Homo sapiens: one gene and its partners. The protein of the gene in region 4 purifies or fractionates together with the protein of the main gene of each other region. This does not show direct contact. Each region holds a gene or a part of one and is shown on either strand. Other genes may lie near its edges.

Evidence for each region.
Region 1: the proteins of ASXL1 (region 4) and KLHL22 purify together in Homo sapiens (co-immunoprecipitation; one large-scale study listed by IntAct). This does not show direct contact.
Region 2: the proteins of ASXL1 (region 4) and ENO1 purify together in Homo sapiens (affinity purification with western blotting; 2 studies listed by BioGRID, with this or other methods). This does not show direct contact.
Region 3: the proteins of ASXL1 (region 4) and CCT8 purify together in Homo sapiens (affinity purification with mass spectrometry, with the first as the bait; 2 studies listed by BioGRID). This does not show direct contact.
Region 5: the proteins of ASXL1 (region 4) and IPO9 purify together in Homo sapiens (affinity purification with mass spectrometry, with the first as the bait; one large-scale study listed by BioGRID). This does not show direct contact.
Region 6: the proteins of ASXL1 (region 4) and AAR2 purify together in Homo sapiens (affinity purification with mass spectrometry, with the first as the bait; one large-scale study listed by BioGRID). This does not show direct contact.
Region 7: the proteins of ASXL1 (region 4) and PGAM5 purify together in Homo sapiens (affinity purification with mass spectrometry; one large-scale study listed by BioGRID and IntAct). This does not show direct contact.

What each region holds. Positions count from the first base shown.
Region 1 is NC_000022.11:20,468,296-20,471,795, forward strand, and holds part of KLHL22 (kelch-like protein 22), read right to left. Parts: intron 3,221-3,500; coding exon 3,055-3,220; intron 1-3,054. UniProt on the Homo sapiens protein: Substrate-specific adapter of a BCR (BTB-CUL3-RBX1) E3 ubiquitin ligase complex required for chromosome alignment and localization of PLK1 at kinetochores.
Region 2 is NC_000001.11:8,872,187-8,875,686, reverse strand, and holds part of ENO1 (alpha-enolase), read left to right. Parts: intron 1-769; 5' UTR 770-778; coding exon 779-863; intron 864-3,500. UniProt on the Homo sapiens protein: Glycolytic enzyme the catalyzes the conversion of 2-phosphoglycerate to phosphoenolpyruvate. In addition to glycolysis, involved in various processes such as growth control, hypoxia tolerance and allergic responses.
Region 3 is NC_000021.9:29,056,649-29,060,148, forward strand, and holds part of CCT8 (T-complex protein 1 subunit theta), read right to left. Parts: intron 1-3,500. UniProt on the Homo sapiens protein: Component of the chaperonin-containing T-complex (TRiC), a molecular chaperone complex that assists the folding of actin, tubulin and other proteins upon ATP hydrolysis.
Region 4 is NC_000020.11:32,424,331-32,427,830, forward strand, and holds part of ASXL1 (polycomb group protein ASXL1), read left to right. Parts: intron 1-3,500.
Region 5 is NC_000001.11:201,853,157-201,856,656, reverse strand, and holds part of IPO9 (importin-9), read right to left. Parts: intron 2,063-3,500; coding exon 1,943-2,062; intron 1,835-1,942; coding exon 1,734-1,834; intron 1,534-1,733; coding exon 1,475-1,533; intron 875-1,474; coding exon 723-874; intron 1-722. UniProt on the Homo sapiens protein: Nuclear transport receptor that mediates nuclear import of proteins, such as histones, proteasome and actin. Serves as receptor for nuclear localization signals (NLS) in cargo substrates.
Region 6 is NC_000020.11:36,242,978-36,246,477, forward strand, and holds part of AAR2 (protein AAR2 homolog), read left to right. Parts: intron 1-1,719; coding exon 1,720-1,949; intron 1,950-3,500. UniProt on the Homo sapiens protein: Component of the U5 snRNP complex that is required for spliceosome assembly and for pre-mRNA splicing.
Region 7 is NC_000012.12:132,713,842-132,717,341, forward strand, and holds part of PGAM5 (serine/threonine-protein phosphatase PGAM5, mitochondrial), read left to right. Parts: intron 1-1,016; coding exon 1,017-1,195; intron 1,196-3,500. UniProt on the Homo sapiens protein: Mitochondrial serine/threonine phosphatase that dephosphorylates various substrates and thus plays a role in different biological processes including cellular senescence or mitophagy. Modulates cellular senescence by regulating mitochondrial dynamics.

The DNA of each region.
Region 1 (3,500 bases), on a different chromosome or scaffold from region 4:
AGCAGCTCCTTGAGAGGACCCTGCTGACTCTCCTTTCAGTCCTATTTTTAGAGCAGTGGGCCTTCTGTTCAGTGAAATCTCACAGAGGAACCAGCCTGGGCTCAGGATGTGCAAAAGCCCCATACGAGGCTCACAGAAGGGACTGCATTTGCTTGGGGTAACCCAATAGGACAGTGTTACTGGGAATCAGACTCAGGCCTCTGGGGACACCGTGAAGAATCTGGTCCCAGGCCTACTGCAGGGCACAACACATGGGGGAAGCCTCCAAAAGTCACTAGCTATGTGAACATACATGATTCTACAGGCCTATGGACTTGACATGGTTATGCCAAGTAAAACCTGCTATAAAACAATATTGTGAAGAAGCCTGTTTTTTTTTGTTTGTTTGTTTTTTGTTTTGAGATAAGCTGGCATGTAGTGGTGTGGTGATCACAGCTTACTGAAGCCTCCACCTCCTGGGCTCAAGTGATTCTCCCACCTCAGCCTCCCGAGTAGCTGGAACTACAGGTGCATGCCACCATGCCCGGCTATTTTTAAAGTGCTTCTGTAGAGGTCTCGCTTTGTTGCCCAGGCTGATCTCAAACTCCTGGCCTCAAGCAATCCTCTCACCTTGGCCTCCAAAAGTGCTGGGATTACAGGCATGAACCTCCAAGCCTGGCCCAGAAGCCTGATATGTTAAAAAACTAAGATAGGCTGCTGCCTCTGAGATGACCTCTGAGGCACTGGGGGAGATGACCCAGGGCTGTCGGGAGCACTGGCCAAACCAACAGAGAGAGACTGCAGGCCTCCAAGCTGACTGGTGAGAGAGGGAAAGTGATGTTAGAAAGATGATCTGGTTTCAGTGTGTGTGATCACTGCAGGGAGAAGAAAGAAATGGCAGAAACATACAGATGGAGGCCAGGCAAAAGGGAAGGAAATGGAAACACAGAACAGAGATGGCTACAAGCAATACCGAGAAGGATGACCTGTCCTCACATGGACGCAGGGAATTAAGAAGGTGGACGGGCTCAAGGAGCCACTGAGGTTGAGCCCAGGGAACTGGCAGGATGGTCACAGGACACACAGAGCAGGGGGACTGACAGGGGAGCTCCGGGAGAGTGGCAGGTGTGGAGGAGGAGATAGGACAGCTGGACCTGAGCCATGCTGGGGGAGATGTTTCAGAGGCAGCTGAATCAGGAGTTAACTGCTGCCAGGGTGGAGAATTGGATGAGGGTTCCCAAAGCAACAATGACAGGGATGTGGGGACAGAAGAGATCTCTAAATAAAAGAACAGGGGGAAATTCTTTTGTTGTAAAAGCCAACTCCATCTACTCACCATGCAGGTATGGTGAGACAAGTCAGTCATCTCAGATCAACCCACCCAGCATCCAGGTCCTATCCACCAATCTGAGAACAGGGCACAGGGAGGCTGCCAGGGCCCTGTCACATGGGGTGGCACCTCCACATGCCCCCGAACAGGTTGGTTTTCCTGTGACTTGAGTTGTTTTTTTTTAATTGCGTCAAACCTGCTCTCATGGGAAGAAAGGTCAGAATGATGAACTTAGCATAGCATTTTGTTTCACTTTTAAGAAATGTGGGAAGAGGTGACTGTCAACTCCTATCAGGCCTCTGCCTGATAGCTCAAAGGCACCTGCAGGCCCAGTCCCGTGTAACTGCACCCACACCACTGAGAATAATCATCCAAAACATAAGTCACACTGTCAAAGCCTCAGAAAACTTTTTGAATTCTGCAGGAAAACAAGTACTTAAAGTTCAATAACAGGTTGGGTACAGAGGCTCACACCTGTAATCCCAGAACTTTGGGAAGCCAAGGTGGGAGTATCACCTGAGGCCAGGAGCTTGAGACCAGCCTGGGCAACATAACAAGGCCCCATTCCTATAAAAAAATATATATATATATAATATCAGCTAGGCACAATGGCACGCATCTTTAGTCCCAGCTACTCAGAAGGCTGAGGCGGGAGGACCACTTGAGCCTAGGAGGTGGAGGCTACAGTGAACTATGATCATGCCATTGCATTACAGCCTGGGTAACAGAGTGAGACCCTGTCTTTAAAAAAAAAAAAAAAATAGGCCAGGCGCAGTGGCTCACACCTGTAATCGCAACACTTTGGAAGGCTGAGGTGGATCACTTGAGGCCAGGGGTTCAAGACTAGCCTAAGCAACAAAGCAAGCCTCTATCTCTATAAAAATAATTTAAAAATTAGCCAGGTGTAGTGGCACATGCCTATAGGTCCTAGCTATTTGGGAGGCTGAGGCAGAAGGATTGCTGGAGCCCAGGAGGTTGAGGCTGCAGTGAGCTGTGATCGTGCCACTGCACTCCAGCCTGGGCAAGAGAGAGAGAGCTTGTCTCCAATAAATTGAATGAGTGGATGGATGGATGGGTGGATGGATGGATGGATGGATGGATGGATGGATGCATGCATGGATGGATGGATGGATGGATGGATGCCTGCCACCATGGATGGATGCATGCATGGATGGATGGATAGATGGATGGATGGATGGATGGATGGATGGATGGATGGATGGATGCATGCATGCATGGATGGATGGATGGATGCGTGCATGCATGGATGGATGGATGGATGGACAGACAAATAGATAGATAAAGTTCAGTAACAAAACACATAAGTTTTCAAGAGACTGAAGTGGCCCAGTGAGGGGACAGGCAGGAAGGGCCCTGGCAGCAATGCTGGTGGATGCTCCCCATTGCCAGACCCCAGAGCACACAGGACGTCCACATGCAGCCTCGGGTCAGCCTACCTGCTTATGTGCAGGATGCTTTCAATGACAGGGAGACTCAGACAGTGGGGAAACAACCAGCAATAGAGAAGAGGGCAAAGGCAGAGGCCTGGGGTGTCTAGAGCGGCTCTGCTTGAGCTCCAGGAACAACTCCAGAGTCTTCCCCACTTCATGGCCTTCGTCACTGCTTGGTCTCCTCACATTCCTGACCCATCTTCAAGCCAATGCTAGTGCCCGGCAGGCATCATGGGCATCTCAGGGAACCCCACCTGGGTGTGGGTCTGCCTTGCTAGATGAGACATGCCTCACCTGAAGCTGGCAGGCAGCCACCAGTGTCTCTTGTACATTGCTCAGGCTGAGCTCCAGCTCGGAGGTGTATATGAAATGTAGGATTTGGCACATAGCATTGTAGGACACACCGTGGATCAGGACCTCTTCCTGTTCCATCTCCTTCAATCCCCCAGCAAACATTCCTCTGCAAAGTGAAGACACAAGAAAATGGAGTTATACCAACAGGGACTTAAGCCCATGTTGCCAAGAGTGACAGCATTCAGAGAAGAACCTGGCGCTGGTGGCAGGGCCCTGGTAGTGGGCTGACCCACTCTGTGCTCTGAGTGAACTGTGTGCATGCATGAGCCATCCCACAAAAGGATCCTGACGAAGTCTGGGCAGCCATCCTGGAAATTGTCCTGTTTCCCTTTTCATGGGCCCAAGGAGTCCCATGTGAGCTTCGGGAGGTGAGGCCACAAGCAGCT
Region 2 (3,500 bases), on a different chromosome or scaffold from region 4:
TCACACGGTCCAAGGACTTCATTGTTCCTGACTTCCAAACTCAGAATTTCTGATCAAATACCTACTAAGTGAATATTAATCTGAAGAATTATGTCCAAACTTCATTCACTATTTTGTTTTAATTCTGCTACAAGCAAGGTTTTCCCCTGGTCCCGCCACCCTCTTTTTGGCCCTAGGTGGTTTTGCTTGTGACCTTCATGTCTGTTCTTGGTTCCTTTCCATTCCCATGCCAGCCCTCATTGTTCACTCATGACAATAGCCAGTTTCAGACAGCTCCTGGGCCACTCTGCGTCGAGCAACACATTCATCTTTCTATTTGGATTTGATTCTCCCTGGGCACACACGTTTGTGGGCTTTTTCTCTCTCTTTTTTTTTTTTTCTTTTTTCTTACAGAACAAGACCTCAATTGCTAGGGTTTAACCCATTTATGCCAGAGGTTGCAAATCTTTTTTTGTGAAAAATCAGACCTTGGCAATGACTTGAGCAGTCGGATAAAAGTAACTCCCACGCCCTTAGCGTTCCAGTAATGGAATACTAGGCATAAAAAGGTTAAGGCCTTCCGCAGCTAGGCCCTAACTACTTAATTAGGAGAATTCTCACTGCTTTCCAGCAGGCTTTTCCCCCCACCCTAGCCAGCTTTCCTACATCCAGTATTTAGTCCAGTGCTGATTCTCTCTAGTCCACGAACCTCGGAAGTGATTCCTTGAATGAGTGAGGAAATGCAGCATTATGGCTTATGGAAAACATGAACTGTGTGTTTCTTCTACAGAAGTTCACCATGTCTATTCTCAAGATCCATGCCAGGGAGATCTTTGACTCTCGCGGGAATCCCACTGTTGAGGTTGATCTCTTCACCTCAAAAGGTATGTGCCACCTCCTTGGTTTCCATGGTTCCTTCCACCGTGCTTCATTTTAAAAATTTTCTACAAATGCTGGAGCCTTAGGAAAAAAAAAATCTGTTAAAGCTTTTCTTTCTGTCTGCACATGCTAGTAGGTTGTGATTCCTGACTGTGAGGGTTGGGGAATTTTTAGGCATGGAGCCAGTGTCTTGCTGTTTCTCGGCTTATTTTTTTCTTTTTCTTTTTCTTTTTTTTTTTTTTTTTTTTTTTGAGATGGAGTCTTGCTCTGTCACCCAGGCTGGAGTGCAGTGGCATGATTTCAGCTTACTGCAACCTCTGCCTCCCAGGTTCAAGCAATTCTTCTGTCTCAGCCTCCCAAGTAGCTGGGACTACAGGTGTGCACCACCACACCTGGCTAATTTTTGCATTTTTGGGAGAGACGGGGGTTTCACCATATTGGTCAGGCTGGTCTCGAACTCCTGACCTCACTCAGGTGATCTGCCCGCCTCTGCCTCCCAAAGTGCCGGCATTATAGGTGTGAGCCACCCCGCCTGATCCTGCCAGCTCCTTGGCTTAAAACCACATAAGTTGGCTCCTAAGTCAGTGAAGTAAGGAAGTAAGGTGATACCACAAGACCTTGTCCCTAAAGGGGCCCATCACTAGTTGTTGGCTGACAGCTTGCTGTGACCAAATGCAGGATACAGTGTGATAGGATGGTATCTCTTGATAAGGGGAGGGATAGCAGGTGTGAATATAGCACCTTTATCTCTGTGACTAGAAATCAGTCTTCAGCAAGGATCAAGGACAGTTTTTACCTGTAGGCTTTGGAATAGTCTGGAGGCTCTCATTTTTACCTGGCTGTCAATCCCTATAGGAGGAGTTTTCTTATGAAAAATTAGAGAATTGTGAAACTCCTTCCTTTAAGAAGAAAATCCAGTGCCTTTGTAGCTCTGTGTTACCTCCAGCACATGGCGCGATGGACAGAGTGGGTGAGGTTGGCAAAGGAGCTTCAGGCAGAATCACTCAGCGGTGCTAAACTCACAGAGAACTGCCAGTCGGAGCTGAGTCACCATCTGTGAGTCACAGGCCTAGCAGTGGAACCCCAGCCCTTCCCTTCCCCTTGCACCTCCCCTCCCCCTCAGGAAGAAAGGATCCTTGAGGCCTGACTTCGTTGGGCAAAAGAATGCCTGAGTTGGCTGCTTGCTGTGTGGGCTCTCAAGCACTGTGGGGTTTCTCACTGGCTTTATGGGGAACCCTGAGGGTTCTCACAGGATGCCAAGAATTCCCTTCATCCAGTAAGAGTGGTTTGCTTAGTCAATGGGTGGAACTTTCTACTTGGATATTAATGAACTTTAAGCAACAAAAGACCCCAGATGCTAGAAGATTGTTGGGAGTTGGACATTTTGAAATTGAAATGAATGGAACTTTCTCTTGTGTGTCTTAATCCTTTTCAAAAAACATGAAATGATGGACTTGCTCAGAACCTTTCATCTCTCTCTCTCCCTGTCTCATCAACTTTTTTAGAGCAGTTTTAGGTTCACAGCAGAAGCAGGCGGAAGGTGCAGAGGTACATAAACCCATGAGTACCCACTGCCTCTGCACATGCGCAGCCCCCCCATTGTCAGCATCCCCACTAGAGTGGTCAACATGCGTGAACACGTTATCATCACCAAAAGTCTGTAGACTCCAAGCCTCTTGTTTTCATCTTGTCTTTGCCTGATCCAGTGTAGGGTGGATATGTAGGGAGCCAGGGCAGCTTTCAAGAAGGAAGTATGACCTGTTGATAGCGCACACTGCAGTGCAGCAGGGAACACTGCTGGGTCCTTTGCTAGAAATATCTTGTTGGTTTCTCTGCAACATCTTCCTTGACACCATCTGTTCTTTTGCCTCCACCAAAGATTGCCCTTGTTACAGGTATAGGTTTCACCAGATGGCTGGTTTCAGTATCTGCAAGATTACTTGGTTCAGTTCTTACATTTATTAAACTGCGCATTTTATTATCTTTATTCCTTCCCCCCACATCCATCCTGTTTGCCAGTTTCCAGTTGGGCATAGAACCCCTAAAATAGCATTTAGCATTGTCCAAACTGAAACAAATGAGCTAGATACTCCTCCTGAGCCAGTTAAATTACCCTAATTTTATGCTTAACATCAATATAGTACCTGTCTGGGCATGGTGGCTCATGCCTGTAATCCCAGCATTTTGGGAGGCCGAGGTGGGCAGATCACCTGAGATCAGGAGTTCAAGACCAGCCTGGCCAACATGGTGAAACCCCATCTTTACTAAAAATAAAAAAACTAGCCGGGCGTGGTGGCAGGCTGCTGTAGTCCCAGTTGCTGGGGAGCCTGATGCAGGAGAATCGCTTGAACCCAGGAGGTGGAGATTGCAGTGAGCCAAGATCACGCCATACACTCTAGCCTGGGGGATAGAGCGAGATTCTGTCTCAAAAGAAAAAAAAAGTACCAGAACGTCTTCAATGCCCTGTGTGGCTCGCATTGGATTTCTCTTGGGCAGTGCTGCTGGAGTAATCCACAGGGCACCAATGCGAGCTTGTGAGGGATGCATATTTGCCTGGGTCAGAATCTACATTTTAACAAGACCTCCAGGTGGCATGTAGGCTCTGCTGTAGAACACTTTCTTTCTGCTAGAGGAATTAGTCA
Region 3 (3,500 bases), on a different chromosome or scaffold from region 4:
TCTTGGTATAATTATGTACTGCATATAAAACACTACAGCACAGAGTTTGCTAGCTCCCTTGTTAGAAATTCAATTGTAAACTTTCAGCGCATGAGAAAGTTTACTGCTTTTATGGATAACCGCAATAAAATCCACAGAGATTAGTGAACATTCCAAGACATGCACTTCAATAACTCAAAAAGCTGAAAGTGAAAATATGTGCATGCATCACTGGTGTAAGTCGGTCAGTTTGGCACCTGATTTGCTATTTATATATGAGATGTGTCTTGCCAACCATCTCTGTCCCAATTTCCTTGTGGTTTAGGAGCTTTAGGCCCACCTGCCAGCTTTGCCATTATAATCTAAAGTAGTTGATACATAAGTATATACAAAGTTTAACACTGAAATTTTCTAAAACCTGTAAATGAGAATCATTCAAGCAGCCAGGAATTTTCATAAACAAAAATCTAAGTTCCCAACTTAAAAAAAAAAGCGCCACAAACCTCACCTTACTTTATCTAAAATAAATAGGTTTTAGCTTTTTTTTTTTTTTTCTTTTTGAGACGGAGTCTTGCTCTGTTGCCCAGGCTAGAGAGTGCAGTGGCGCGATCTTGGCTCAATGCAACCTCTGCCTCCTGGGTTCAAGCAATTCTCCTGCCTCAGCCTCCTGAGTAACTGGGATTACAGGTGCCCATCACCATGCCCGGCTAAGTTTTTACTTTTAGTAGAGACGGGGTTTCACCACGTTGGCCAGGCTGGTCTCAAACTCCTGCATGATCCACCCGCCTCAGCCTCCCAAAGTGTTGGGATTATAGGTGTGAGCCACTGCGCTCGGCTGGAAAACATCTTAATTACCATCTGCAAACCTGAACTGGGCAGTGGCTCATGCCTGTAATCCTAGCACTTTGGGAGGCCAAGGTTTGAGGCCAGGAGTTTGAGACCAGCCTGGGCAACAAAGTGAGACCTAGTCTACAAAAACTAAAAATATATATATATATAAAATATATATATAACATTTGATAATATATATATGATATATGTATCATATATACGATACATATATCATACATATATCATATATAATATATATCATACATATATGTATGATATATATATCATGTATATGTATGATATGAGATATATATGATATATATGAGATATGTATGATATATACATATGTATGATATATACATATGATATGTGTGATATATACATATCAGATATATATGATATATATCTCAGCCAACCATGACAGCACCTGCCTACAGTCCCAGCTATTCGGGATGTTAAGGCAGAAGAATCACTGGAACTCAGGATTTTGAGGCTGTGGTGAGCTGATTATGATTGTGCCACTGTCCTCCAGCCTGGGTGATAGAGTAAGACCTTATCACAACAACAACAAAAAAGATACCTAAACCTGAAATTCTCAGAATAACATGTTACCAATTGAGAGTAATTTCAGACTGAATTAAAGGCATTAAGCATAATTTTAGAACCTAAGTGCACATTGATTTTAAAAAGTAACTAAAAGCTGGGTGTGGTGGCTCATGCCTGTAATCCCAGCACTTTGGGAGGCCAAGGCGGACAGATCACGAGGTCAAGAGATCGAGACCATCCTGGCCAACATGGTGAAACCCCGTCTCTACTAAAAATACAAAAAAAAATTAGGTGGGCATGGTGGCATGCGCCTGTAGTCCCAGCTACTCGGGAGGCTGATGCAGCAGAATTGCTTGAACCTGGGAGGTGGCGGTTGCAGTAAGCTGAGATCACACCACTGCACTCCAGCCTGGTGACAGAGCAAGACTCCATCTCAAAGAAAAAAAAGAAACAAACACTAAAACAAGTAGTTCCCAAACTTTAGTGGGCACCATAATCAAAAGTGCTCATTAAAACAGACTGCTAGGCCTCTTCCAGCATTTCTGATATTGGTGGGTCTGGAGTGACATCTGAGAATCTGTATTTCTTCTTTTTTTTTTTTTTTTGAGATGGAGTCTTGCTCTGTCGCCCAGGCTGGAGTACAGTGGTGCCATCTCTACTCACTGCAGGCTCCACCTCCCAGGTTCATGCCATGCTCCTGCCTCAGCCTCCCGAGTAGCTGGGACTACAGGCATCTGCCACCACGCCCAGCTAATTTTTTGTTTTTTTTAGTAGAGACGGGATTTCACCATGTTAGCCAGGATGGTCTCAACCTCCTGACCTCGTGATCCTCCTGCCTTGGCCTCCCAAAGTGCTGGGATTACAGGCGTGAGCCACCGCGCCTGGCCTCCAAGAATCTGTATTTCTTATTTATTTTTAGTTTTTTAAAAGATGGAGTGTCACTCTGTCAACCAGGCTGGAGTGCCATGATGTGATCACAGCTCACTGCAGCCTTCAACTCCTGGGCTCAAGTGATCCTCCCACCTCAGCCTCCTGCGTAGCTGGGACTACAGGTGTGAGCCACCATACCTGGCTGAGAACTGTCATTCTAACAAGTTCTCAGGTGATGTTGATACTATTTTGGGACCATACTTTGAGAACTAGTGAAATAGACATTCCAACAAAGATTAATCCAGTCCGTACTACACTATCCAATGCTTAAAGCTTGATGTGCAATTCCTTTTCTAGAATATATACTATACAAATTTAGGTTCATTATACTATACACTATATACACAAACTGGTTAATACAGTTGGATGGGTTCTTTAGATACATACTTCACATAGAGTGCAAAGACTGGGGGAACAGATCAACCAACAACTTCCCCTACCATAAGATAAAGCAGACTTCCTAGTTTAAAGCCAAAATTCAAACTGCCTTTGTGACCAAGGGTGGTGGTTATTGTCTTGCTTGAATAATTGACATTCAAAGTTCCTAACACAGTTGGAATTTCTGCGTTCCTTATGCTGCAGTCTACTTAGCTTCTTCCGTCCCTGCTATTTTTGGTTTCCCCTTTTATTCTTAGCCACATTCTAATTTCTAGAATAAGTATTTTCTTAGGTTTCTATTTAAGAACTCAAACATATTCTTCCATTGAAAATCACCTAATAAGCTGACAGAGAAACCCGTTAATCTGGTACATAAACATCTAGTTTCTGCTTATTTTCAATGACTTGAAACTAAATATCCAGTTCCATTTTTGGTCATCTCTTGCTATCATAGTTCTTCCAATAAATTTGTTATAATTACCACCAACTGGTCCTTACTGTACTTAAAAGCTGAAATGTCTTTCCACTGATTTCTACTTAGGACTTACTCCACCTTTAATATGACATATGACTTTTACCTAATGGATGTATACTGTCCCTCTAGCAAATTAAAATTTTCTATTAAGTACTTATAAATAGTCATTGCTTATTAATTACTTCTAGAATTTTGTGGGGAAATGTATTTAATTAAGTTTGCCAGAAAATACCTTTTGGAAAAATAATTATGATTTCAGGTTTACTTCTATATATAGAACAGTCTACCACAATTCTTCAAAAAAAAAAAAAAAAGGGTAGAAATATGATTTTAAACACCTTTAACATCTTTTAGTATCTCA
Region 4 (3,500 bases):
TCAAGACCATCCTGGCCAACATGGTGAAACCCCATATCTACTAAAACTACAAAAATTAGCTGGGCGTGGTGGCAGCCACCTGTAATCCCAGCTGCTCGGGAGGCTGAGGCAGGAAAATCGCTTGAACCCAGGAGGAGGAGGTTGCAGTGAGCCGAGATCATGCCGCTGCACTCCATCCTGGGTGACAGAGCGAGACTCTTGTCTCAAAAAACAAACAAAAAAACTGCCACCTAGAGATGGTGGTGGCCAACAGCTTAGTAAGAATTTCTCTTGCATTTTTCTATGCAAACACATTCAAATTTTCATTTTTTAAAAAAGATGATAGAATCATACTGTATGAATTTAATTGCCTAATTAAGCTTGTGTATCATCGTTTCTCTTGTCATTAAATGCTGTACAGCTTTCTTTTAAATGGCTATCTGTGGTAGTGTTCCTTGAAGGAAATACCTTAAAATTTTTTGTTTTTAAACTTTTATAATTGTGGGAATGTAATACAGTGAATGCATAGGACACAAATGTTCAGCTTAAGGAATTATTATAAAGTGAACACCCTGTAACTGCCACTTAGATCACGACATCAAATATGGCCAGCAGCCAGGCGCACCTCCCCTACCCCCCACTGCCCCTTCCCAGTCACAGCCCCATTCTTCCAGCTGAAGGTAACTTCTGTCTTGACTTTATGAAAGTTATTTTCTTGCTTTCCTTTAGATTACCTACCCGTCTTTGCATTCCTAATGCTGTAGTTTAGTTGAGCTTATTTTGAACTTTTCACAAACGGAATCATCAACTATGCATTATTTTGTATCTGGCTTTCATTCACTATTTTGTTTTTAATATTCATCTATGTCGTTAGTAGCTATAGTTCATTCATTTTTTGTTGCTGTATAATCATCCATTTATTGAATGTACTACAATTTGATTCTGCCTTTGGCAGCCACTTTGATTGTTTATAATCCAGATTTCAAATGCTGCATCATGAACATGTGGGTTGTGATTTGTGTAGATGTGCATGTACTTCTCTAAGGAATCCAAGCCTAGGAGGGACGTTGCTGGGTCAGAGGATGTTTGTATCTTCAACTGTACCAGATAAGGCCAAATTGTATTCTCAAATGCTTGGATCTGTTTTCAGTGTACTTGTTCTACTCCTAATTAACACTACTTGATATTGTCAAACTTTAATTGTAGCCATTCTGATGGATGTGGTAGTATCTCATTGCGGTTTTAATTTGCATTATTTTGCATTTTCCTTATTGTTAGTGAGATTAAATACCCTTTTATATGTTTTGGCTACTTCAGTATCCTCTTGTGCAGTGCCTAATTCACATCTTTTATTTTTCTTCTGAGTTGCCTTTTGCCCATTGATTTATATTTGTTCCCCCTCTCTCCCCGCCCCCAAGAAGGAGTCTGGCTCTGTCACCCAGGCTGGAGTACAGTGGCACAATCTTGGCTCACTAACCTCTGCCTCCTTCGTTCAAGTGATTCTCCTGCCTCAGCCTCCCAAGTAGCTGGGACTGCAGGTGTGCGCCACCACGCCCAGCTAATTTTTGTATTTTTAGTAGAGACAGGGTTTCACCATGTTGACCAGGCTTGTCTTGAACCCCTGACCTCAAGTGATCCATCCGCCTTGGCCTCCCAAAGTACTGGGATTACAGGTGCAAGCCACCATGCCCGGCCTGATTTATAAATGTAGTCTAAATACAAGTTCTTTATTGGTTATGTAAGTTGCAGATATCTTTTTCAGCTCTGTAGGTAATAATGTTTTTTGATGAATAGGAGGTCTTAATTTTAATGTAGTTTAATTGATTTGTTTTCTCCTTTGTAAGAATCAATATTTTTCATGTCCTGTGTAAATCTCGTATTGGGATAAAAGATACATATATATTTTTTAGGTTTTGGCTAATAGTTTTCCGTTGGCAGCATGTGAACCTTTTTATGCCATTTTTACTTTCATCAAGGGTGTATGTATGATTTTCTCATACTCTTGTCAGAACTGGAGATTTGGGGTAACTTTGCCAGTGTAATAGACTTTCTTAATTCATTAAGGAGTATTTTATCTTAGTTTGCCCATGAGAGAAGAGAGATTAAATTTGTTTTATTATACCAAGAACATGGCAGTCAATAAGCATAACTAAAAATATTATTTAGCTTTTGATTCTGAAGACCATGTATGGCCAGTAAGGAAAAGAGGTAAAGATGTAGAAAACTGTTTTCTTTTTTTTCTTTCTTTTTTTTTTTTTTTTTTTTTTTTGAGATGGAGTCTTGCTCTGTCGCCAGGCTGGAGTGCAGTGGCGTAATCTCAGCTCACTGCATCCTCCACCTCCTGGGTTCAAGTGATTCCCCTGCCTTAGCCTCCCGAGTAGCTGGTACTACAGGCGCGTGCCACCACACCTGGCTAATTTTTTGTATTTTAGTAGAAACAGGGTTTCACCGTGTTGGCCAGGATGGTCTCAATCTCCTGACCTCGTGATCCACCTGCCTCAGCCTCCCAAAGTGCTGGGATTACAGGTGTGAGTGAGCCACTGCACCTGGCCTCTTTTTTATTAATTTAAGATACATGATTTTGGCTAAAACTAATGAAAATAAATTGATGAAACTTCAATGTAGTGGATCAAGAGACTCATGAAATTGATGAGTTAGATTGTTGTGGGCACCTGTTTTAAATTTATGGTGCCTTTTTAGCAGAATCATGACTTTATCAACTCTTTTTCACATACTTTTATTCAAAGAAGACATTCTCCTCCTCTGCCCCAACTTATCTTCTTCTTGTCTCCAACTGCCAGTATTCTCATCCACACTCTTTGTAGTTTTGAGGTGTGAGATAACTCCCAAGTTCTTCTTGGGAATGGGTAGAGTTTAATTCTGAGTCTACATGTCGTGAGTCTATTGGAAGAAGCTTTTCTTAGGAGGTGAAATTTGGGATGGAGTTCTCCTCTACACTCTAGCCCTGTAGCCACAATCTTTGGTTTAGATCTTTGGCATTTTTTGTTGGACATCTTTCATAGTGTCTACCTCTTCTTCCTGCCTCTAGGCTTCCCGCGGTTGCCAGATGAAATTCCGAAAACTCAAATCATTCCTGTAGTTAATATTCTTCAGTGACTCCGGAACAATCAAATTCTTGATCCCTCCACATGGGTCTTACCATCTGCCCTCGTGCCCTCTCTAGCTTCCTGCATATTGAGTTCCCCACAGCCCTAGTTTCCCTGAGTTTGGAATATTCTTTCACATTTGCTCATCCCACTATCTAGAAACTTCCTACAATCTCTCTACTGCCAACCTGTCTGTCTAGTTGCTAATTTATTTTAAAACCCAGCTTAAGCAACACATCCTTTTGGATGTGTTACTTCCCTGATCGTTATTCACCTCCATGCCGTCTTTCGCTCAACTCATTGAAGTTAGGTGCCCCTCTTCTGGGCTGCCACGGCTCTCCATGTTCACCTATGTACTGTACTTTGTATTGTAATCAGTTTAATTGACCCCCCTACTTATTTGAGCTCCTTGAG
Region 5 (3,500 bases), on a different chromosome or scaffold from region 4:
AACTCTAGCTTAAAAAAATCTTTTCTTTTTGATGTAGAGAAATAAATACTATTAAGTAGCAAGGTAGGTAGCAATGGCTATTGCTCTCTTTTAGAATCTGGCTGATTACTAGCTCTCTGCCAATGTCAACCTGCTGTTACCCTTTGATAGATCGATTTTCTGAATAGATTAAGTCTGATAGACTATTTATTGTGAAAATTATGTCAATTCTTGTGCTGTTTTAAACGAGGCGTTATCTAATTTTTGAACGTTCTTTGCTGCTTTTGATGACCCACCATCAGGCTAATGGTCTGATTATTACATTTTACTTTAGGGAAGGAACAGATTCTCCTAAAAATCAGTGTCTTAGGTTAGTGGTCCTGTGAGATTTTCTAATGGCAAAAGTGGGCCAGGCACAGTCACTCATGCCTGTAATCCCAGCACTTTGAGAGGCCAAGGTGGGTGGATTGCTTGAGCCCAGGAGTTAGAGACTACTAGCCTGGGCAACATAGTATAGTACTTTGCTGGGAAAAAAAAAAAAAAAAAAAGCCAGGTATGGTGGTGAACTCCAAAACCTTGGATTTGGCAATAAAATGATGTCAAACCTTTCCCAGAACTTCACATGAAATTATTCTTTTTGTGTCTATTTTTAGAAATAAAGTGTTCACCTGACCAAGACCTCATATTCTTCAAGTTGCACTTTCCAAATACAAGATGGTAACTGTCTCTCAAATATTATTTACCTGCTCCTCAGTGATTTGCATGTACAGGATAATATAATAAATCAATTCAGGCAAGGCTTTCTTAACAGTGCTTTTGAATTTGCTATTTTCTAGTAGAGCATGGACAAATTCAAAAATGCTAAAGACGAGATTTTCAAAGCCCAGGACTTCACCTGCAGGAAATACAGAAGAGAAGAAATTAATGACAAGAAAGCAAAAGGAAAGCATATATGCAGAAAATGAACTACATAACCTTTGTAAATTACTGAATATTTAAAGTACTTGCTAATGATCATTCCTGAGGAATTGGGAGAGAGGGCTCAGAGGTCACAAAACGTAATTTTGAGGATATTAAATATTCTTTGGTTTTTCAAGTAAAAGAATCAGAAACACTGGATATATTTTCCAGTATGTCTATTGTTCTAATCTGAAATAATGAGAAATGTTAAAACAGAAACGAAAGATTCATGATCTGGGACCCCCAAATGAAACACAACAAAATGCCAGAAGTAGGCTAGATTAAATGGCCTTAAAAGTATCTCTTCCAATGCAGAAATTCTATGATTTTATGAGATTTATGCAACTACCTATGTGGAACAGATTAAAGATTGTCAATTCTCATTTCCCCACATCGAATACATCGAAAATAAACTGAATTAGAAAACACTTAATAGAGTGAAGCCTCTCAAGTTACTGTTTCCCGCCCCCATCTCTGGCTTCTTTTTCTTTTCCCACTAACTGGTATTTCTATAAAGATCAAATAAACTACATACCATCAGAATCCACAGGATCTTCTACTTCTTCTGTGTAATTTACTTCTGTCCTCACATAAGTATGATGAAGAGTAAAGAAATAGAATTTGGAGTCTGCTTTACATATAATCTACATGGAAATGTTACATATTCCAACACTAAAAGTAGACACCTTAAAAAAGCCTGTGTAAGAAGAGTGGAACCATATGAATGTGAAACCCAGTGCGAGATTCCTAACTATAGGTGGTAGTAGCTCCCTTAAACTTTCAAGAAAGGATATAAAGCTGCACTCTCGGTTAGGGTGTTCCAAACAATAGGCAGAATCTGCTGCATGGAGGACACCATGTGCTTTGGGAAGTTTTTCACTAGGGCTGTCACTGCCTAAGAAGTTAAGAGAAAAGGACCCAAGTTATGAGTGATATATAAGAAATAAATGATTTCAGACCAGCCCCTCAAACTCCAAATATTTCATTGGTAGTAAGTGTTTACCTTTAGGACCTCCATCTTAAACCCACTGTCAGATGTGGGGCCATCTGGTATCTGGAGGGCCTGAACAAAGGCCTCTGTGAACTGCTGTACCACGGGAAAGATCAGGACTTTGGCTGCACCCTGATAACAGAAACCAAAGTCAATACTGGACAAACCCCTAATCCATGGCTTCAACACATATATATCAAACACTGATATTTGAAAGGCACCTAAAGCTCTCTTCAGGCTCCAAGCCTGATCAGAAGAGAATAGCTATAAAGTCAATGAAGGTGTTACCTAAGATTTCATTTTTCCTTAACCAGCACTTGCAGTTCTTCATCAAAGCCCTCTTAAAAACTATTATGTAAGACCAACTTTCCTCCTAACTGCTTCTGAATCACAGGGATTGGTATTTTTCAGCTAGCTTTGCTTCACACAAGAGGGCCATAAAAGAGTAGGAAAGTTCTAAGGGATGACTACTATGAAAAGGATATAGGATAAGGTGTTTGAAGAAGTAAGACTCAAAAGAAGACTAAGCTTTTTACAAGTTGAAAATTCAATCAGGCCAGGTGTGGTGGCTCACACCTATAATCCTAGCACTTTGGGAGGCCAAGGTGGGAGGATCACTTGAGCCAAGGAGTTCAAGATGAGCCTGGGCAACATAGGGAGAGACCCCGTCTCTACAAATATAAATTCATTAGGCTGGGCATGGTGGCTCATGCCTGTAATCCCAGCACTTTGGGAGGCCGAGGTGGGTGGATCACGAGGTCAAGATATTGAGACCATCCTGGCCAACATGGTGAAACCCTGTCTCTACTGCAAAACAAAAATTAGCTGGGCATGATGGCGCGTGCCTGTAGTCCCAGCTACTCGGGAGGCTGAGGCAGAAGAATCACTTGAACCTGGGAGGCGGACGTTGCAGTGAGCTGAGATTGCACCACTGCACTCTAGCCTGGTGACAGAGCGAGACTCCATCTCTAAATAAATAAATAAATTCATTCGTTCACTCATTCATTCATTAGCCAGGAGTGGTAGCACATGCTGGTGATCTCACCTACTCGGGAGGCTGAGGTGAGAGGATTGCTTGAACCTGGGAGGTTGAGGCTGCAGTGAGCTATGATCATGCCACTGCATTCCAGCCTGGGTGACAGAGCAAGATCTTGTCTCAAAAAAAACCCAAATAAATAAAAAAAATACAAATATAGCTGAGTGTTGTGGTTCATGCTTATAACCCCAGCACTTTGGGAGGCTGAGGGGGGAAGACTGCTTGAGCCCAGAAGTTCAAGACCAGCCTGGGCAATACAGTGAGACCCTATCTCTACAAACATTTAAAAAAGAAAATCAGCCAAGTGTGGTGGTGCACACCACACCTGTAGTTCCTACTGGGGGTCAGGGGATCACTTAAGCCCAGGAGTTCAAGGCTGTAGTGAGCCATGATTGCACCACTGTAGTCCAGCCTGGGTGACAGAGCAAGACCCTGTCTGGAAAAATAACAACAATAATTTAATAAAAATGTTAAATCTATCTCTAATACTGGTTAGTGTGCTTTTTCGTGCTGCTATCATGAAATGACTCACTG
Region 6 (3,500 bases), 3.8 Mb from region 4:
CTCCCAAGTAGGTGGGACTTCAGGTGTGTGCCACCACGCCCAGCTAATTATTTTTGGTTGAGATAGGGTCTCCCTGTGTTGCCCAAGCTTGTCTCAAACTCCTGAACTCAAGCAATCCTCCTCCACTGACCTCTCAAAGGGCTAGGACTATCCCTGCCACCGCACCTGTCCAGGGATAATTTTGAATCTACATCACACCTCTTTGAAAAATATAATTTAATTTTAGATAAAGTCAGAAATGCACAAATTTAATAAATGTCCTAAACGCAAATAATAGGCTAATATTTAGTTTCACAAACCAAGTAAAGCCAGCTGAAGAAGCAAATCATTAACCTATATTATACAAAGAAAATTTGACTATATTTGAAAATATTGGTCAGAAATCCAAAATTTCTAAACCAGGTAGCTATTCACACAAATCAAACTTAGTTCCGTATGCTTAGGAACAGGGAGCTAGTTTTTCCAGGTCTCTGGAGGTGGCACAGATCAAACGCCATGCATTTAAAGAGGTATTTGGTGTTGAGTACATCTCTTCTTTTTATGGCCCACATGTATGTATACCTCATTAAATTTCCAGCCACCTTTGAAGTAGAGAGAATGCCTGTGATGAGGAGCAGTATTCTGTGGTAACCAGAGACCCAGTTACTTGCCCAGGGACAGTGGTGTCTGGATCATCAGGTCTCTGTTTGAGATGGGCATCTGATAGAAATTGGGAACATAATATTTTTTGAGTGCTACTTTGTGCCAGGTCTTATTCTAAATGCTATACATGTACTATATCCATTCATGTAATCTTTGCTACAACCCTCAAATAAGGAAATTGAGGCCTTAATAGATTGAGTAACTTGCCCAAGGTCACACAGCTGCTAAGTGGCAGAGCTAAGATTTGAAGCTAGGCAGTTTGGCTCCAGAGCCCATGCTCTTAGCCACCAAGCTGCTCATAGAGATTAAATCACAGAGCCCTGTGGTTAAGCAAACAAAAATAATCTGCCTGGCAGGCTGACCCTGGAATAAGTACTCATGAATTTTTCTTTTGTGGGAGGTTCCAGAACTGTTCCCACCCAATGGAGAATCTGTTTTATCTTTCCGTTGCCCACATTGTGAAGCATTAGATGTGTGGCCTTGGGCAAGCCCTTGACCTTATCTATGAAATGAGGCAAATACCATCTTCCTGATCGCCTTGTGGAGTTGGGCTGAGGGTTACATGGTATAGTGCAGTATTTCCTGACCCTGGAGCAGACCATCCACATTAGAATCACCTGGGGAGCTTGTTAGAGCTACAGATACGAAGGCCCCATCATCTCTCCTCCACCAGAACCTCTGAGGGTGAAGCTTGGGTAGCTTTACTTTTAACAGACTCTCAGTGATTCTGATGGGCAGCCAGGTTTGAAATCCACTTGGCATAATATCCATGAACACATTTTGTAAACTTAAAATGCCAGGCAAATACTGGGAATACCTCTTCTCTAGCAGTCTGATTTTATAGAAATCCAAAGCCACAGGTTGGTTTCCCATGGCTTGAATTCATAGCGGTTCAGCAGACATCTATTGAGTACCTGTTAGGTGCAAAATCTCCTGCCAGGCTCTGCAGGAGTGACAAGGATAAAAGCTCATCTGTTGCTGAGGTCCAGTGGAATTCATGGCCTTGTGAATAGTGATGGAGAGTGTCAGCTGGTCCTCCTCTCCCTCAGAATCACTTCTCCTCTCTGCACCTTTCAGGTGAACTCCAGTTTGCTTTTGTGTGCTTCCTGCTGGGGAATGTGTACGAGGCATTTGAGCATTGGAAGCGGCTCCTGAACCTCCTGTGCCGGTCAGAAGCAGCCATGATGAAGCACCACACCCTCTACATCAACCTCATCTCCATCCTGTACCACCAGCTTGGTGAGATCCCCGCTGACTTCTTCGTAGACATTGTCTCCCAAGACAACTTCCTCACCAGCACCTTACAGGTGAGCAGTCTTTCTGACTGAGCTGATGCACATGTGGGTCAGAATTGAGGCAACAGTATGTGTTTTGTTTCTCGCTATTCTTCCATGACCCCAAAATTTTTAAATTTCAGTTTCCTAGTCTTGGGATATTTCCTGCTTTTCTCTCTCTTACTCAATTGTAAGTGCCTCTATGCCAGAAATTTTCTCTCTGTACCACCCTCTCCCTACACCTCGTCCCCAGAGTGCCTAACACTGGGGTACTTGGATTTGAATTCCTCCCACTGCTTTGGTTTACTCAGCTTAAAACAGCGTTTCTTTCTCCCTGTAGCCATGAATTGCTACAACCCAGTAAAGCAGAATTTTGAAGTTTGTTATTCCCAGTGAAACATCTGCAGCTCCTTAGATCTCATTTAAGCATTAAAATAACTTTGATTTCCTGTTCAAACAAAATGTGCCAGTTTCTGCAGAGATTCTATGACAGAAAAAGTGAAATTTGCTTTTAACTTGGCAATTAAATTTTCATTATGAGTGGTAATTAGGAAAGAAGCTTCAAACAACTTACAATCTTCATCCTATGCTATTTCCTCCCTTTGCAAACAGATTAGTCCTTTATGTACTTGGGACAGCCTCTGTCACTCACATTGTGTAACTTTCTCAAGAATAGAAGAGGCAGAAGCTGCCACTGTCAGTTTCCATACTTTCCCTCCCATGAGCTTCTTTCTTCTCCCTGTGTGTAATACCCCCATGAGGCCTGCTCCATATAAGGCAGCCTTTCACCAACCTTCCAATCCCACTCGGGGTAACAGAAGGGACGAGCATTCGTTAAATATTGGGGCTGGGCGTGGTGGTTCATGACTGTAATCCCAACACTTTGGGAGGTGAAGGCAGGAGGATCACTTGAGCCCAGGAATTAAAGACCAGCTTGGGCAATATAGTGAGACCCCGTCTCTCCAAAAATTAAAAAATTGGCCAGGTATGGTCATGTGCACCTGTAGTCCTAGCCACTTGGGAGGCTGAGACAGGAGGATCACTTAGCCCAGGAGTTTGAGGCTATAGTGAGCAATGATTATGATCGTGCCACTGCACTCCAGCCTGGGCAACAGAGTGAGACCCTGTTCACTCATTGAATCCCTTTGGAGCCTTGTAAGATGGGGGTATTATTCCCATTTTACAAATGGGAACACTTGAGAATGGTTAAATCACTTACTTGAAGTCATACAGCTGGCAGGTGGAGGTCAGGATTTGTACCCAGGCCTGAGTCTTGGTTTCCTGCCTGTGCTTATGCCCTTGTGTAGTGAACACAGTGTGAATCCCCCAGAAAGGATTCTTGATTGACATCAGTGAAGACTTCATCGAGGTCCTGTTTCTCAGAGGTACAGAACGCTTTTCTAAAGCCAACCTACTGTTGGATGAGTCCCTGTGAGCAGGCATCTGACTTAAAGCTGGCAGTTGAAGGACCTGTGTAAACCATGGCAATGAGTCAGTCAAGCGCATGATTTGAGCCTGGTCTGTTCCACTCAGAAGAGCTATAAAACTGTCCTTTTACTGGTTCTTCATATAACAGAGAAATTA
Region 7 (3,500 bases), on a different chromosome or scaffold from region 4:
ATGTTTTTGTAGAGACGGGGTCCCCCTGTGTTGCCCAGGCTAGTCTTGGACTCCTGGGCTCCAGTGATCTGCCCACCTCGGCCTCCCAAAGTGCTGGGATCCACTCTTTTTCAGATTCCAGCAGCTCTGGAACAGACCTTCATAATGGGAATGTTTTCTTCCTCACTGAGTGTTTGTTTATTTATTTATTTTCTGAGGCGGAGTCTCACTCTGTCGCCCAGACTGGAGTGCAGTGGCACGATCTCGGCTCTCTGCAACCTCCGCCTCCCAGGTTCAAGCGATTCTCCTGCCTCAGCCTCCCAAGTAGCTGGGATCACAGGCGTGTGCCACCAAGCCCGGCTAATTTTTGTATTTTGAGTAGAGGTGCAATTTCACCATGTTGGCCAGGCTAGTGTCGAACTCTTGACCTCAGTTGATCTGGCCACCTCAGCCTCCCAAATGCTGGGATTACACGTGTGAGCCACTGCACCCGGCCTGAGGGTCTAAAATGTGCTTAGTATGACTGAGGACATGATGTTTTAATTTTATTTAATTTTGCTTAAATTTTGAATTGAAACATCCTCATAGCTAGTGGCTGCTGTTGGGCATTGCAGTTCTAGGCTCTGCTGAAGCATCATGGTCAGGGAGGCCCATCTTGGCCCCGTGGACACTTTCCGCCTGCGCCCCGATAGCCGCTGTCCTCTTTCCTAGCCTGGCGTTCTCCGTAACCACAGTTGCGTTTGGGGTAGTCTGTCTCCTGCTGTTCACTGTCTGCCTCTCATTAGAGAAGAAGATGCACAGGGCTTTGCTTGTCTGTTTTGCTCTCCAGCGCATCACTCAGAACAGACCTGGCACTAGCTTTGTGGGAGGGAGAGTGGCGGTATGCTCAGAGAGGCCTCCCCAGGGCTGTGCCAAGGGCCTTGTCTTCTCTCCATGCTCTTCCCAAATAGTCTGACAATTTGGAAATAACATCTTGTCAGAAAAACTCAAACTTGGGAACAGAGGTCTCAAGGACATATCTTGTATTTCAACATCAGGCGAGAACCACTGTCTCTGATCAACGTGCGGAAGAGGAACGTGGAATCTGGGGAAGAAGAGCTGGCGTCCAAGCTGGACCACTACAAAGCCAAGGCCACGCGGCACATCTTCCTCATCAGGCATTCCCAGTACCACGTGGATGGCTCCCTGGAGAAGGACCGCACTCTGACCCCGCTGGGTATGTGGTGGGTTCAGATCCTCTGTGGACCCTCGTGGTTATGTGGCCAGGTGCATATCTGCTGGCGCCTTGGTTATGTGACTGGGTGCAGGTCCTCCGCCGACCCCCTTGGTCAGCTTTCTTGAAAGTGCTTGGGGCACTGGGCCTCCTGGGGCCCATGTCCGAGACCATCACCCCTGAATCACACATTATTACCAGTAACTGTCAGCTGAACTTGGACAGAAGACAAGCTTTTCAAAATGTCCTTACCTTGGCCGGGCGCGGTGGCTCACGCCTGTAATCCCAGCACTTTGGGAGGCCGAGGCAGGTGGATTACCTGAGGTCAGGAATTCGAGACCAGCCTGGCCAACCCGGCAAAACCCTGTCTCTACTAAAAGTACAAAAATTAGCCAGGTGCAGTGGTGGGCGCCTGTAGTCCCAGCTACTCGGGAAGCTGAGGCAGGAGAATGGTGTGAACCCTGGAGGCGGAGCTTGCAGTGAGCTGAGATCGCACCACTGCACTCCAGCCTGGGCGACAGAGCGAGACTCCGTCTCAAAAAAAAAAAAAATGTCCTTACCTTGGCCAGGCACGGTGGCTCACGCCTGTAATCCCAACACTTTGGGAGGCCGAGGCAGGTGGATCACCTGAGGTCAGGAGTTCGAGACCAGCCTGGCCAACAGGGCGAAACCTCGTCACTACTAAAAGTACAAAAATTAGCCGGGTGCAGTGGCAGGCACCTGTAATCCCAGCTACTAAGGAGGCTGAGACAGGAGAATTGCTTGACCCTGGGAGGTGGAGGTTGCAGTGAGCCAAGATTGCACCACTGCACTCTAGCCTAGGTAACAGAGTGAGACTCCGTCTCAAAAAAAAAAAGCCCTTAACTTTTAGCAAATGTTGGACAGATCTTGTTTGCATGAGACCAAATGCAGTGCATATCCCAGCAGTGATTTTATACCTGCTTGATGCCTTGGAAAGCGGCGTGGCTTGTGCCCTCGGCTGCTCACCTGGACCTGCTGCCAAAGACGCTTCTCTGCGGCCTGTGGCACTCACAGGCCTGATGCCTGGCGTCTGCTTGTTTGTTTGTTTTGAGACATAGTCCTGCTCTGTTACCCAGGCTGGAGTGCAGTGACGTGATCTTGGCCCGCTGCAACCTTTGCCTCCTGGGTTCAAGCAATTCTCCTGCCTCAGGCTCCCAAGTAGCTGGGACTACAGGCACACGCTGCCACTCCCAGCTATTTTTTTGTATTTTTAGTAGAGACGGGGTTTCACCGTGTTAGCCAGGATGGTCTCTATCTCCTGACCTTGTGATCCACCCGCCTCGGCCTCCCAAAGTACTGGGATTACAGGCGTGAGCCACCACACCCAGCCTAATTTTTTTTTTTTTTTGTATTTTTAGTAGAGATGGGGTTTCACCATATTGGCCAGGCTGGTCTCAAACTCCTGACCTCGTAATCCGCCCGCCTTGGCCTCCCAAAGTGCTAGGGTGACAGGTGTGAGCCACCGCGCCCGGCCTGGCCTCTGCCTCTTAATGCCCTGTTGAACAGGCGGGACTGAGCAACAGGATCCCGCCTGTCCCCACTGGCAGATGCTGCATAGACAGCGTCCAGGAGGGTCCTTCCACCTTGTCCTTGTGTCCCTGTGCAGGTGGATCTGTAGAAGAAATGCCTGCCTAGAGAAGGAAATGCAGGGTGGGCTAAGGTAGAGTTTACATTTTGAAAAGTTCTTCGAATGGGATAGTGCCTGTTCATGCACATACTAAAAGTTCAGATAGTAAAAATGTGCAGGGCTGTCCTCCACAGACGCCGCCCCCCAGTCCCCAGAGCTGTCCTGGCTGCTTGTGCACAAAGAAAGTGGAGTGACAGATGCAGGTGTGGCTGCATCCAGTGGCTTCGGCCTTCCTGAGGCGTTTTCACCTGGATGCAAAAGCTCACAAGAGAAAAGGCATCTGCACTGGTGTCCGGCCCCCACATAGCAGCTTGGGGTGTTTAGGTCCCGCTGTGTTGGCCTCCGCCATGGCGCGTGGTTGGGGGCCTGTGAGGCTCAGGTTTTGGACACAGTTGAGTGAGGGTGACAAGGGGGGACCCAGAAACCACCCCTGGGCCCCACCAAGCGCCAGCCACCATCCGGTTTGCTTGCTGCTCCATTGGTGGAATCAGATGCATGTTTTTTCCTGTATGGGGGTGAAGACAGTTGAGTGCCGGCCCCTCTGGCCCAAGCCTCGGGCGGGCAGGAGCCATCGGCTGAGCTTGCTGAGCTTGCTGCCTGATCAGGGGTCGTGTTTGCGGGCGGAGGAGGGGGTGTTTGCGGGCGGAGGAGGGGGTGTTT